Linked DNA regions of Homo sapiens. The protein of the gene in region 1 purifies or fractionates together with the protein of each later gene. This does not show direct contact. Each region holds a gene or a part of one and is shown on either strand. Other genes may lie near its edges.

Region 1 (3,916 bases):
TGTTCATCAGAGGGCCCCACTGAGGACAGGACCTCTTCCTAACCTTGGTGGGGTGCAGCATAGGGGGTGCCTCGCTGGGCTGAACCCCCTCTTCAAGAGGGCAGCCCAGAGCCCCTAAGCCCCCAACCAATGAGAGGCAGGATCCCTGCGTCGTGGCTGCCGAGGCCTGGGGTGATGCCCTAATGGTGCCTTGTGGAAAAGCAGGGAGTGAGACCCTAGCTTCTGGGTCCCAGGGCTCCAGTTGAGTTGGGGCTCTGCCATACGATTATAACCATCATCGAAGCCCCTCATTTTCAGTATTTTAGTGGAGGAGCTGCAAGGCTGCCCCAGGCCAGGTCTGTGTCCCCTGAGCCAGGTTCCCCCAGCATCACTGCCTAGTCTGTGACCTTGGTGAGTCACTTTTCCTTTTTGAGCACCAGTTTCCTGATTTTTTTTTTTTTTTGAGAGTGTTTCTCTTCTTGCCCAAGCTGGAGTGCAATGGCGTGATCTCGGCTCACTACAACCTCCGCCTCCAGGGTTCAAGCAATTCTCCTGCCTCAGCTTCCCAAGTAACTGGGATTACAGGCATGCAGGCATGCAACACCATGCCTGGCTAATTTTTTGTATTTTTAGTAAAGATGGAGTTTCACCATGTTGGCCAGGCTGATCTCAAACTCCTGACCTTGTGATCCACCTGCCTTGGCCTCCTAAAGTGCTGGGATTACAGGCGTGAGCCACCATGCCCGGCCTCCCAGTTTCCTGATTTGTAAAGCACAGATAAAAATGAAAATATCAACAACCTCACAGAGCAGTTCAAGATAGTATCTAGCGAGTGAGTGCTCAGTCATAGTAGTGGGTGCTCAGTCAGTAGTCAATGTCATCACTGCTGGCATTCCCATCACTCCCCCAATGCCCACATGGCGGCTCAGGCACCCTCCACTCCTCCCTGATGGGGTTACTTCCCCCTTCTCTTGTCCCTGCCCCTGCACCTGAGGAGTATGAGGCACCAGGCCACTGTAGCAGGTCCACAGGCCATCAATGCTTTAATTTTGTCAGAGGCAGGCACTGAGCAGCCCTGCTGAGGTCTCCCCAGCTACTGTGCCACAACCAGCTCGGAGCTGCCACTCTAACAGCAGAGTGGAGAGCTGGGGTCAGGGCCATAGCCCCCGGGCTGAGGAGGCCTTCTTGCAGGACCCCAACCACAGAACGAGTGGTCTTCACAACACCTGCGGCCTGCGGACTCCGTTTTTTGCCAAGGAGTCTGAGATGCTTCATGCCCATCAGACCATGGGGTGGCCTTCATGGGAGACCTGCAGGGCCAGGCTGGCCAGACTTGGCCAGAAAGACTTCCCAGGGAAGATGCTTGGCTCTCTGCTCCAAGGTGGGCCATGGTATAGGGCCCTCGAAGGGCTTGTGGCTGGGGTGATCCCAGGGGGCATTGCTCAAAGTGCACAGGAGGTGGCAGCAGGGTCAGGCGAGTTCCTGTTCCAGGGACATCAGGAGGGAGGGTAGAAGCCTAGGGAGTGTGCGAGGCTGCTGGGATGAGGGAGCTCAGGGGCTACCAGCTAACCAGCCTCAGCTCAATGGTTTCTCCATCCTTGGGTCTGTAGTCAGCAATACCTGCAGAAACAGATTGAGCAAGGAGGGGCGAATTGGGCAGAATATCGCACCCCGCAACCTCATCTTCCAGACCCCCCACCCTGAGGCTAGAGTCTGTAAGAATCCACCTGGGGCTTGGTGGTGGGAAGCTGGAACCTCCCTAAAGCCTGCTCAAAGACTCTGAACTCAGCTTCCCACAGGGTTCCTGAGGCCATGACCTCATCTGGTAATAAAAACACCTGACAGGCAGGGCCACTGTCTTTGTAATACCCTAGGGACCATCAGGAAGAGAAACTTGCGCAGTGCAGTCTGGAGAGAGAACCAGGACCACGCAGAAGTCTCCCAGGAGTCAGCTTTCACTCACTACACAGAATCCAGGCTCTAGGAGGACGCCTGGATTCAAGCCCCAGCTCTGTCATTCATTACTGCTGTGACTCTGGACAAGTTATTTAACCTCTGAGTGAGTGTCGCTGCTCTTGTTGGTGATGTGGGAATGCAGCCTGCAGGGGAACTGAAAGGGCCCTTTGAGATAGCCAGGTGTCAGAAATGTTTCCTTTCAATGGAGGTGCTATGGTCTAAAATGTCTGTGTCCCCCCAAAATGTATATGTTAAAACCTAACCCCAAAGGTGATGGTATCAGGAGGCCTTAGGGCCTTTGGGAGATGATTAGGTCATGAGAGTAGAGCCTCATCAATGGGATAGGAAAGTGCCATTATAGGCCGAGCAGGGTGGCTCATACCTAGAATCCCAGCACTTTGGGAGGCCAAGGCAGGCAGATCACTTGAGTTCAGAAGTTCGAGACCAGCCTATGCAACATGGTGAAACCACATTTCTACTAAAAATACAAAAAATTAGCTGGGCTTTGTGCCATGGGCCTATGGTCACACGTACTCAGGAGGCTGAGGTGGGAGGATCGCTTAAGCCAGGGAGGCAGAGGTTGCAGTGAGCTGAGATTGTGATACTGCACTCAGCGTGGGTGACAGAGTGAGACCCCCATCTCAAAAAAAAAAATTTTTAAGTACCATTATAAAAGAGGTTCCTTCAGCAGGCAAGGGCCAGGAAAATATTTTTTTTTTTTAAATTAAAAAACAAGGCCCCAGAAAGTTGCCATGTTCCTTCCACCATGTGAGAACACAGCCAGCAGGTAACACCAGAAAGTGGGCCCCCATCAGACACTGAATCTGTCAGTGTCCTGATCTGGGACTGCCCACCCAACCTCCAGAACTGTTAAGAAATACATTTCTGTTATTTTATTTCATTTTGAGATGGAGTTTCACTCTTGTTGCCCAGGCTGAAATGCAATGGCGTGATCTCAGCTCACGGCAACCTCCGCCTCCTGGGTTCAAGCGATTCTCCTGCCTCAGCCTCCTGAGTAGCTGGGATTACAGGTGCCCGCCACCACCCCCAGCTAATTTTTTGTATTTTTAGTAGAGACAGGGTTTCACCATGTTGGTCAGGCTAGTCTTGAACTACTGATCTCAGGTGATCCACCTGCCTTGGCCTCCCAAAGTGCTGGAATTATAGGCATGAGCCACCGCACCCGGCCTCATTTCTGCTGTTTATAAGCCACCCAGTTTATGGTATTTTGTAATAGCAGCTTCAATGGACTAAGACAAAAGAGAACTCAAATTATAACTCCCATCCACTTTCCACCCCAAGGAAGATAGAGGAGTGATTTATGCAACTGGTTGATTTGGGAAGAATAAACTAGGCATGTGTAGCCTGGGCGCTATTTTTCTCCTGGGAGCGGGCTTCCTTCTAGACTCAAGGGCAGAGGGGGAAGGAGATAGAGGCTACAACTGCCCAGGTCTGCTTCCTGGCTGGGTCCACCTAGCTCTCACCCTCCTGTCTTTATCAGTAATAGAACTGGCCAGACTTGGGGTCTCCATCTGTAGCTCCTATTTTTTATTCCTCAATTTATTCAGAATGAGGGCAAGAAAAGAATGCTTTTTTGTGGGCTCCCTCAGAAAGTCCCACCTTCTCTATAAGCACTCGCCACAATGCTTGACACATGGTAAGTGCCCCATAAAAGTTCTTCAGGGGTGGAGTATCAAAGCAACTTAAATAACAAGAGTAGGAACAGATGACTTTTAAGGGTCTGTTTGCAGGCCAGGCGTGGTGGCTCACGCCTGTAATCCCAGCACTTTGGGAGGCTGAGGCAGGCAGATCACTTGAGGTCAGGAGTTTGAGACCAGCCTGGCCAACATGGTGAAACCCCGTCTCTACTAAAAATACAAAAATAACTGGGCATGGTGGCACACACCTGTAATCCCAGCTACTTGGGAGGCTGAGGCAGGAGAATTGCTTGAGCTCAGAAGGCAGAGGCTGCAGTGAGCTG
Region 2 (3,818 bases), on another chromosome or scaffold:
GGTCATTGATTATGTGATGCCAAACACAACAGATGGGTGTCTTCTTACAGTCCCTAGGAGTAGCTTATGATCATGCCACGGTACTCTGCTGGTTAATGCAGAGCAGGACTCATCACCATATCTCTTGACTGCCTTTTTTATCACACCCTGTGGCTGCCAAATAGTGGTTAAGAGCACAGACTGAGACTGCTGAAAATGAAGAAGGGAGCAGGGAGGAAAGAGAAGAGAAAAATGGCAAAGGTAGTAGGAGGACCCTGTGTTGTTCAGCTCCATAGTCCCAAGGCCAAGAACAGTTCCTAGCATGTCAATATATGATAAATATCTGTGGAGCAGATGAATAGAAAAGACCATGAAGGGAGCAGGGTTTTGTAGTTTTAGCAAGTGAGTCCTTGCCAGAGATTATACTCCCTCTTCACCCTCCTCTTCACTTCGGAGCTAGACTTTAGGAGGTAAATGGATTATCCAGCTACTATGTCCTGTTTCTTACCAACTTCTCTGATTCTTAAATCTTGAAGTCACAAATTAACTTGGGGACCATGTCTGGACTTCAAGAGTTTTAGGACTCCCTTGAAATTATGTGAGGATATGTGCATTTTTCTGGGAAGGAGAGAGGGTTGGTTCATAGTTCTTAACAGATTATCAAGGAATCCATGATGCCTCACATGTCAAGACCCTCTGCTACTTGGAACATCACTAGAAATTCTTCCACATACAGTCGTCAGGTTTTTAAGCCCTTTGGTTTTTGTGCATTTTTTTTAAATTAAATATTATACTGGGCTGTACAGAGCATACATAACAAAGGTCATGTAGCTGTTTTAGTGAGTCGTGACTACCTAGCCTCACAGTTATGAGCACCAGTGATTATAGAAGCCACATGAACTTTCCTAAAAGGGAAATCATTCCCTGGGATTTGACTATAGTGACCTGAACAACATACCCTTCAAGACCAAATGCAAGCAAAGAAGGGCCAAGTACCCCCCAACCCTAAAGGTACAGAGGGGACCAGCCCTGGATGACCTAGATGCTGCAGTACCCAGTATACCCCTCCTCCGCTGTCACGTCACCAGTGAATTGTCCACTTGTGCAGAGTCATTGCATTGGGTCCTAGTCCTGCTCACCTTTCAGGGATTGGGAACAGTTTTCTAATACAGGCCACACAGTTTTATGTCACGTGTTTCTTTTATAGGACAAGTCCAGAACGAGATCCTCTCATTCTTCTGTCTCGGAAAAACCCAAAACTTGTTGATGCAGAATACACCAAAAACCAGGCCTGGAAATCTATGAAAGTAATCACCAGTCATCTGACTAGAACTACAGCAGTGAACATTCTCACTCAAAGAACATTGCCACCTGGGTAGAATTTGAGATTAGGTTTCCTGTCAGTGGTGAGGTGAATGTAAAGAAAGTTCCATGAACCAGCATTAGCATATATGTAAATTCTCCTTTTTCAAACTTACATTGCTTTTCTGGCCATATTATGACTAGTATATTGCACTACTTTGAAGGTTTAAACCAGGGGTCACAAACTTTTTCCAGGAAGGGCCAAATAGTAAATGTTGTAGGTTTTGCAGGTCGTATGGTCTCTATTGCAGTTGCCAACAGACATGGGCAGTTTGTAAATGAATGAGCCTGGCAGTGTTTTTATTAAAACTTTATTACGGCCAGGCATGGTGGCTCATGCCTGTAATCCTAGCACTTTGGGAGGCGAGGCGGGTGGATCACTTGAGGTCAGGAGTTCAAGACCAGCCTGGCCAACATGGTGAAACCCCGTCTCTACTAAAAACACAAAAATTAGCCGGGCATGGTGGTATGTGCCGGTAGTCCCAGCTACTGGGGAGGCTGAGGCAGGAGAATCGCTTGAACCTGGGAGGCAGAGATTGCAGTGAGCCGAGATCACGCCATTGCACTCCAGCCTGGCGACAGAGCAAGACTCCGTCTCAAAAATAAGTAAATAAAAATAAAAATAATAAAAAATAAAAACTTTATGGGCACTGAAATTTGAATTTCATGTAATTTTAAGTTGTCATAAAATATTATTCTTTTGCCTTTTTTTTTAACCATTTGAAATGTAAAAATTTCTTAGTCCATGACAAAAACAAGCAGTGGGTCAAATTTGGCCTGTGGGTCGTAGTTTGCCAACCCCTGGTTTAAATCAATGGTCTCAACCCTGGCTGTGCAATACAACCAGAGAGCTTAAGAAAATGAATCAAATGAGTCAGAATCTCTGGGAATGGTGTCCAGGAATCTTCATTTGTTTAAAACTTTTCAAGTGATTCTAAGGTGAAGCCAGAAATGGGACCGTTGGTTTACAGTCCACTCTCTCCTCTTAACTCTATGGCTTTTTGCCTTAATCAAAGAAATTAAAGCCCTAAACTTCCTTTATATGAAATTTCCATATACCATATGAGGATGCTATGAGGAAAAGCTTTAGACTTCTTGGGAGAAAACTAAGTAAATCTGAGGTGCATGTATTATTTCATACAGTTTTAATCAGGAGCAAGTGAGCTTAAGAAACTTTGTTGAATAATAAAAATATGAAAAAATGTGTTCATTTAGAACAAAAGTTGTTAGCATCTACTGTGGGAGGCTGCAGAAGCAAACAAAACTTGTCCCCTCATCAAGGAGTTTACCATCTGCTAAGGTGGATGGAATGTACCTGGGGATGTCAAACTCAGATGTCCCCAGGGGCCAGCAGGTGATGTCAAGAGGTGAGCAAGAGAGAATACTAACAGTTCCAAATGTTAATAAGAGCCCAGTTTGCCAGATCTTCCTTTTTATTCTCCAAGAAAGACTGGAAATCTGGATTTTTGCAAGAAATATCCTACCACCTGTAAATGTTGGCAATGATTTGATTTAAAAAAAAAAATACTTTGCATGCCCAACAAAATTTGAGCATGGGCTATATACACCCCTAAGGCCATCAGCCAGCACTTGGGACCTTCTCTGCATACATTATTTACACAGAGTGAAGTGTGCTGCAGGCTGTGACATCTGAATTCAAAGGAGGGCAACATGGCTTTAGGTGTGCTTAAACTTTAAAATCAGACGGGCCCTGGTTAAAACTCTGTCTTCTATTTAGAGCCACACTGACCTTGAGCAAATCTCAACTTCCAAAGCCTTGGCTTCTGCATTTATATAATGGGAATAATAATGTCTCCTGAGTATATTGATTATGAAGCTTAAATGAGGTAATGTTGATGAAATGTTTAACAATGCTTGCTGCACAGTGATCACAATAAATGCTGTTGCTGTTAATACTAATAACTTCCTTTCCACTTAAAGGATACCTTAGGAAAGCCAGCTGCTAAGGATGTCCATCTTGTGGATCACTGCAAATACAAGTAAGATTTGCAGGACTCCTCACTTTCTTGGTTTCCATACTGCTTTTGAAATAGCTTCACTTTGGGTGAGAACTTTAATATAAAGGCCCAGCTGGAGTAAATGAAAGTTGCATTAATTCATTTCACTGGCTTTTCCTCAGGGCCTAAATGCACTGACCTGAGTTCTGTGGCGACTGTAGAGAAGAATGGAACATGGTTCCTGCTTCCAAACAGCTGCATGCTAGCTAGTAATCACAGTAATGGAATTACCTCTCCATATGCCCCACCCACCCAATCATTGAAGTTAGAATAAATATTTCTCAGTTAATAAATATTAGAATTATTATCCTGGTGTGCTGGCATGCTCCTGTAGTCTTAGCTACTCGGGAGGCTGAGGTAGGAGGATCCTTTGAGCCCAAGAGTTCAAGACCAGCCTGGGCTACATAGTGAGACCCTGTCTCTAAGAGAAATAAAATAAAATTCTGGGACTAAGAATTA

What was found.
Region 2: the proteins of TCN2 (region 1) and POGLUT1 purify together in Homo sapiens (affinity purification with mass spectrometry; one large-scale study listed by BioGRID and IntAct). This does not show direct contact.

The regions. Positions count from the first base shown.
Region 1 is NC_000022.11:30,624,143-30,628,058, reverse strand, and holds the end of TCN2 (transcobalamin-2 isoform 1 precursor), read right to left. Parts: intron 1,600-3,916; coding exon 1,538-1,599; 3' UTR 788-1,537; downstream 1-787. UniProt on the Homo sapiens protein: Primary vitamin B12-binding and transport protein. Delivers cobalamin to cells.
Region 2 is NC_000003.12:119,485,647-119,489,464, forward strand, and holds part of POGLUT1 (protein O-glucosyltransferase 1 precursor), read left to right. Parts: intron 1-1,186; coding exon 1,187-1,286; intron 1,287-3,282; coding exon 3,283-3,341; intron 3,342-3,818. UniProt on the Homo sapiens protein: Dual specificity glycosyltransferase that catalyzes the transfer of glucose and xylose from UDP-glucose and UDP-xylose, respectively, to a serine residue found in the consensus sequence of C-X-S-X-P-C.